Homo sapiens: one gene and its partner. The protein of the gene in region 1 purifies or fractionates together with the protein of each later gene. This does not show direct contact. Each region holds a gene or a part of one and is shown on either strand. Other genes may lie near its edges.

What was found.
Region 2: the proteins of PKNOX1 (region 1) and VPS33A purify together in Homo sapiens (affinity purification with mass spectrometry, with the first as the bait; one large-scale study listed by BioGRID). This does not show direct contact.

What each region holds. Positions count from the first base shown.
Region 1 is NC_000021.9:42,977,476-42,981,291, reverse strand, and holds part of PKNOX1 (homeobox protein PKNOX1), read right to left. Parts: intron 1-3,816. UniProt on the Homo sapiens protein: Activates transcription in the presence of PBX1A and HOXA1.
Region 2 is NC_000012.12:122,259,838-122,263,653, reverse strand, and holds part of VPS33A (vacuolar protein sorting-associated protein 33A), read left to right. Parts: coding exon 1-82; intron 83-2,206; coding exon 2,207-2,393; intron 2,394-3,816.

The DNA of each region.
Region 1 (3,816 bases):
GGCACCGCCAGCACCAGGCCTGCTGGCTCTTTCCACCAAGGACCATGCCTCTCAGCCCTTGAGTGCTTCTCCTAACAGTTTCCAGACTGACCTTCTTCTATGTGATATGTCCACTCTACATGTCCTCCTGAACAGTGTACACAAGACAGAACCATGAGGTATCCACTCAGTGCTGCACACGGATGCAAGATGGTACTTCCCAGGGCCTGCAGCCACTTCCTTCACCCTCACCTCCAAGGACACACACTGTTAGGCTTTGGGTTCCCCTATCTGTGCCGTTTTTATTTCCTTGTCTCTTTTGTCATCAATATAATCATTTGAGGAAGTAAAGAAAGGACACCATATATTCCTACAAATGGATAGGCTGAGAGTAAATCAACTTGGTATTTGTGAACATGAATGATAAAAGGCAAAAACTTCTAGCTGAAATGTAGCACTCCTTCAATTACAAAGGCAGACAATAAGCCCTGGAGTTTTAGCAGGAACAGCAACAGGTATTTTCCAAAGCATTAGAGTGTCACAAAAAATCTCGTCACTACTCCCAAATGAATTACCAGAGCCACAGCTCAATCCGGTTACTAAGCTAATAAATGGGACTATCACCAATTTGGTTCAATACAGTATTTTAATAACTGTATTTCAAAATAATTTGTTCTCTTCTTCATCTATTTATTTCCTTTAAAGTGCTGTTAAGAGGCCCCCAGAGGCCAAGCAAACGTGAAAATTTAAGACGCCCCCTCTCCCACCAGAGTCTATACTTTGCATCACTTTAGCAGTTTCAGGCTGTCCTTCTAAACAGTTTCAGACACTTTTAACAATTTGCAACAAAAGTGTAAGCCGCAAATAGGATGTTACTTCTCATAAGTAGCACCTTTCTATTTCTGCTATTTACAAGTAGTATTTTTTTTTCTCTTTTTTCGGACATGGAGTCTTGCTCTGTCGCCCAGCCTGAAGTGCACTGGAGCGATCTCAGCTCACTGCAACCTCCACCTCCTGGTTCAAGTGATTCTCCTGCCTCAGCCTCCCGAGTAGCTGGGGATACAGGCTCCTGCCACCACACCCAGCTAATTTTGCATTTTTAGTAGAGACAGGGGTTGCCCCATCTTGGCCAGGCTGGTCTCAAACTCCTGACCTCAGGCAATCCACCCACCTCGGCCTCCCAAAGCGCTAGGATTACAGGTGTGAGCCACCGCACCTGGCCTCACAAGTAGTACTTTTCTAAAGTTACTGCCAGAGAAACGTTAACTACATATAGAGTACAGGAATCCCAACAAAATGCATTGTACTCAGTATCATTACCACAGAACCTGCTGGCACTTAGATCATAAGCGCAGAAGGTTAATCTTTGAAACAAGTCATACTTCACTGACCATGTTTCATCAATTCTAAGGCACACTTTTAAATGTCTGAAGTGAAAAGCATCCTTCACTGATGGGGTAAGAAAGCAGCGTGCCAGAAGGCACTGGGAGCATCTGTAGTGGTATAACACACTGCTGCATTTTAGATTCAACAGACTATAAGCACCTCATTTTTCTTTTTTCTTTTTTTCTGAGATGGAGTCTCGCTGTGTCACCCAGGCTGGAGTGCAGTGGCGCGATCTCGGCTCACTGCAAGCTCCGCCCCCTGGGTTCACGCCATTCTCCTGCCTTAGCCTCCCAAGTGGCTGAGAATACAGGTGCCCGCCACTACGCCCAGCTAATTCTTTGTATATTTAGTAGAGACGGGGTTTCACAGTGTTAGCCAGGATGGTCTCGATCTCCTGACCTCGTGATCCACCCGCCTCGGCCTCCCAAAGTGCTGGGATTACAGGCGTCAGCCACTGCGCCTGGCTATAAGCACCTCATTTTACCTTTTATTGTGTTTTGCTTTATTGCACTCAGCAGGTACTATGTTTTTCACAAGTTGAAGATCTGTGGCAACCCTGTATGAAGAAAGCAAGCCTATTGGTGCCAATTTTCCAAAAACAGGAGCTCACTTTGTGTCTGTGTTACATTTTGGTAATTCTTCACTATTTCAAACTTTGTCATTATTATGTCTGTTACGGGGATCTGTGATCAGTGATCTTTGATGTTCAGGTCAGGAACAGTGATTCATATGGGTAATCCCAACACTTCGGAAGGACGAGGCAGGAAGGCGGCTTGAAAGGATTCACCATTCTGGAAAGGAACTTAAGAGACAGCCGAGGCAACATAATGAGACCTCACTTCTACAAAACTTTTTCAAAATTAGCTGGGCATGCTGGCACATCCCTGTAGTCCCAGTTACTCAGGGGGCTGAGGTGGGAGAACCACTTTAGCCCAAGAGGTCAAGAGTGCAGTGAGCTATGATCTCACCACTGCATCCCAACCTGAGCAACAGAATGAGACCCTGTCTCTCAAAAACATAGCCAAGGCCAGGAACAGTGGATCATGCCTGAGGCTGAGGCAGGAGGACCACTTGAGGCCAGGAGTTTGAGACCTGCCTGGATAACATAGGGAGACTTCATCTCTTTAAAAAAAAACAAAAAAGGGCTGGGTGCGGTGGCTCATGCCTGTAATCCCAGTACTCTGGGAGGCCAAGGTGGGTGGATTATTTGAGGTCAGGAGTTCAAGACCAGCCTGGCCAATACGGCGAAACCCTGTCTCTACTAAAAATACAAAAATTAGCCGGGCGTGGTGGCTCACGTCTGTAGTCCCAACTACTTGGTAGGCTGAGGCAAGAGAATCACTTGAACCCGGGAGGCAGAGGTTGCAGTGAGCCAAGATCGCGCCACTGCACTCTAGCCTGGGCGACAGAGCGACTCCATCTCAAAAAAAAAAAAAAAAAGAAAAGAAAAGAAAAAAACAAGTTAGCCAAGTTGTAAATGCAAAGCAGAAGTTTCTTTCCAATTTTTGAAATTAAAAAAATACATACACAAATTTTTGAAATTTTAAATCACCTCTCAGAACAAAGGAAAACTTAAAGGCAATTAAAAAGTGCTACTCCAGTGAACACATGAATAAGAAAATGGCCAGGTCCGTTGGCTCACACCTGTAATCCCAACACTTTGGGAGGCCAAGGCGGGCGGATCACTTGAGGTCAGGAGTTCGAGACCAGCCTGGTCAACATGGTGAAACCTTACCTCTACTAATAATACAAAAATTAGCTGGACACATGCTGCACACCTGTTATCCCAGCTACTCGGGAGGTTGAGGCAAGAGAATTGCTTGCACCCAGGAGGCAGAGGTTGCAGTGAGCCATGATCATACCACTGCACTCCAACCTGGGCAATAGTCTCAAAAAAAGAGGGAGGGAGGGAAAGAAAGTGAAACAGCCTTATTGGTGATATGTGGAAAGTATGAGTGGTCTGATTAGATCAAACCAGCCACAACATTCCCTTAAACTGAAGCCTAATCGAGAACCAGGCCCAAGTTTTCTTCAATTCTATGAAGGCTGAGAGAGGTGAGGAAGATGCAGAAGAAAAGTTGGAGCCAGGCACGGCAGCTCACCCCTGTAATCCCAGCACTTTGAGAGGCTGAGGCAGGTGGATCACCTGAGGTCAGAAGTCCCAGCCTAGCTAACATTTAGTAGAGCCCGTCTCTACTAAAAATACAAAAAATTAGCTGTATGTGGTGGCAGCTGCCTGTACTCCCAGCTACTACGGAGGCTGAGGCAGGAGAATCGCTTGAACCCGGGAGGTGGAGGTTGCAGTGAGCCGAGATCACGCCATTGCTCTCCAGCTTGGGCAACAAGAGTGAAAATCCATCTCAAAAAAAAAAAAAAAAAAAAAAAAAAAGTTGGAAGCAGCAGAGGCTGGTTCATGAGGTTTAAGGAAAGAAGCTGTCCCCATAACACGAA
Region 2 (3,816 bases), on another chromosome or scaffold:
CGGCAGCTGATGTGAAGAATATAATTTTTTTTGTCAGACCCAGGCTAGAGTTGATGGATATAATCGCTGAAAACGTGCTCAGGTATCTCAGAGCTTGTGTTTGATCCAAAAGAGTTTGGTTCTTATAATGCTTTTAATTTATGAGCTCCTTCTCATGGAAGACCCTCACTCTTGCCAGTGCAAGGTGGTCTTTTGGAAAACTGAGATAGGCATGGAAGAATATAAAAGAGAAGATGGGGGCTGGGGGGAGGTGGAGATAGTTAATGGGTACAACAAAAAATAGAATAAGACCTACTATTTGATAGCACAACAGGGTGACTATAGTTAATAATAATTACGTATTTTTAAACTTAAAAAGTGAGACTGGGCATGGTGGCTCACACTTGTAATCCCAGCATTTTGGGAGGCCAAGGCGGGTGGATCACTTGAGGTCAGGGGTTCGAGACCAGCCTGGCCAACATAGTGAAACCCCGTCTCTACTAAAAATACAAAAATTAGCCAGGTTTGGTGGCCTGTGCCTGTAGTCCCAGCTACTCGGGAGACTGAGGCATGATAGTCTGTTGAACCCGGGAGGCAGAGGTTGCAGTGAGCTGAGATCGCGCCACTGCACTCCAGCCTGGGCAACAGAGGGAGACTCCGTCTCAAAAAAAAAAAAAAAAAAAGAGTGTAATTGGATTGTTTTGTAACTCAAAGAGTAAGTGCTTGAGAGGATGTGTCCCCCCATTCTCCGTGATGTGCTTATTTCACATTGCATGCCCACATCAAAACATCTCATGGACCCCATAAATACATGCGCCTGCTATGTACCCCCCAAAAATTAAAAATAGAGAGGATGAGAAACTTAGGAAGTTGTTGTCAGCAGTTGGAGAGGAGGATCATCCTATCTACCCATTCTTTCAAGATAGCCAAAAGCTACCCATTCTTTAAAGATAGCCAAAAGCTTAAACCTGTGTCAGTAAAAAGGGCCCTAGTTTAAAAAAATAAACCTCCAGCAGTTATTTTTAAATATACTGCATGTACTTGAATTTCATAAGCAAAAAAAAAAAAAAAGCTGATTAAATTTTAATATAGCATCCAGTCTATAGAGGAAGTGCTCCCAGCCGAGTCTGCACTCTGTGGTACAATTGATTGTTGCAGCCCCTAAAATCTTAAAAGCATATGGGCTATTTTTGGAAGTTCTCTGTCAAGGAGAGTAGGAGTGGGAGTCAAAAGTGATCTTTCATTTTAATTTAAGACTCTTTGTGGCTGCATTGCTTTGGTTGAAGAACCATTTGTTTTTATTGAGACACAGATATCCTATTTCAATCAACCTGAGAGCTTCAATGCCCCATAAATGGTTTAAGAGAATGCTAAAATGTACTCGCCAGGACTCAGTGATGCTTTCCTGTCAGGGGGAAGAAAGAGAGAGAGAGTGGGTACAGCTGTAACACGTTGGGTCTGAGTCAGTTTTTGGTTATTTTTTTGAGACACAGTCTCACTCTGTTGCCCAGGCTGGAGTGCAGTGGTGGAATCTCTGCTCACTGCAACCTCTGCCTCCAGGGTTCAAGCAATTCCCCTGCTTTAGCCTCCCAAGTAGCTGAGATTACAGGCACACACCACCATGCCCAGCTGATTTTTGTATATTTTTGTTTTAGTTTTTATTTATTTATTTTGAGATGGAGTCTCGCTGTGTTGCCCAGGCTGGAATGCAGTGGCGTGGTCTCGGCTCACTGCAACCTCTGCCTCCCGGTTTCAAGCGATTCTCCTGCCTCAGCCTCCCAAGTAGCTGGGATTACAGGTGCCTGCCACCATGCCCGGCTAATTTTTTGTATTTTTAGTAGAGTCGTGGTTTCTTCGTGTTGGCCAGGTTGGTCTCCACCTCCTGTTCTCGTGATCCGCTCGCCTCGGCCTCCCAAAGTGCTGGGATTACAGGCATGAGCCACTGCGCCCAGCCATTTTTGTATATTTTATAGAGACGGGGTTTTGCCACCTTGACCAGACTGGTCTCGAACTCCTGACCTCAACTGATCCGCCCGCCTTGGCCTCCCAAAGTGCTGAGATTACAGGTGTGAGCCACTGCACCCGGCCTGAGAGTCAGTATTTATATGATTTATCTAGCCAGCATTTATTTAGTGCCTGCTATGTGCCAGGCAGTGGGGATAAAAAAAGCAAAATGGTCCATGACTCTTAGGAGCTCATAAGCTAACAAATGTTGCTTCCTTTGCAGTGAAGATAGACGAGGCCCAACGAGAGATTTTCATATTCTGTTTGTGCCACGCCGTAGCCTGTTGTGCGAACAGCGGTTGAAGGATCTGGGTGTCTTGGGATCCTTTATTCACAGGGAGGAGTACAGCTTAGATCTCATTCCATTCGATGGGGATCTCTTATCCATGGAATCAGAGGGTGCATTCAAAGTAAGTTTGGCATTTCCTTAACTTCAGGCATTAATTTTTGCCCAGTTTATGAGTGTGAGCATACCACAGTACTGATTACTGTGAAGCTGAGTCCCATTTTATATGTTTATTGATGTTTAAGATTTTCTGTTCAACAAATTGTTCATTTTCTTTGCCCGTTTTTTCTTTTTGAGTAATTCTTTGTATATTCTGGATGTTGATCATTATGGATTATAAAAGCTGCAAGTATCTTCCCAGTCTGTGACTTGTCTTTTAACTTTGTTTTTTTGTTTTGTTTTGTTTTTTTGAGACGGAGTCTCGCTCTGTCGCCCGGGCTGGAGCGCAGTGGCGCGATCTCAGCTCACTGCAGCCTCCGCCTCTTGGGTTCAAGGGATTCTTCTGCCTCAGCCTCCTGAGTAGCTGGGATTACAAGTGTGCGCCACTATGCTTAGCTGATTTTTGTATTTTTAGTAGAGACAAGGTTTCACCATGTTGCTTGGCCAGGATCCGCTTCATGATCCGCCCGCCTCCGCCTCCCAAACTGCTGGGATTACAGGCGTGAGCCACCGCGCCTGGCTTAACTTTGTGTATAATGTCTTTTATCATGTAGACACTTCCCATTAAAAGTAGTTAAATTTTAAAATTTTAAAATATTAGCTTTATTTATTATAACTCACAATACTGGCTGAGGTAAGTGGCTCATGCCTGTAATCCTAGCACTTTAGGAGGCTGAGGCGGGTGGATCACCTGAGATCAGGAGTTTGAGACCAGCCTGGGAAACATGGGGAAACCCCGTCTCTACTAGAAATACAAAATTAACCGGGTGTGGTGGTGGGTCCCTGTGGTCCCAGCTATTCAGGAGGCTGAGGCAGGAGAATCACTTGAACCCGGGAGGTGGAGGTTGCAGTAAGCCGAGATTGCGCCACTGCACTCCAGCTTGGGCGACAGAGGGAGACTCTATCTCAAAAAAACAAAAAACAAAAAACAAAAAAAAAAACTCACAATGCCATGAAATTCTCTCCTTTAAGGTGCAAAATTCAGTGGTTTTTAGTGTATTTACAAAGTTGTGCAACTATCTCCACTCTCTAAGTATGGCACATTTTAACTATTCCGAAAAGAATCCCCATGCCCAGTAGCAGTCTGTCGCTATCTTTCCTTCCCTCAGCCTCTGGCAGCCACTAATCTAGTTCAGTCTGTATGAATTCGCTTATTCTGGAGTTTTCCTTTTCTTCTTTTTTTGAGATAGAGTCTCACTCTTTTGCCCAGGTTGGAGTGCAGTGACGTGATAATACCTCACTGCAGCCTTGACCTCCTAGGCTTGAACGAATTTTCAGCCTCAGCCTTTTGAGTAGCTGGAACTACAGGCATGTGCCGCCACACCTGGCTAATTTTTTTTTAATTTCTTTTTTTTTCTATTTTTATTTTTTGGAGAGACAGCGTCTTA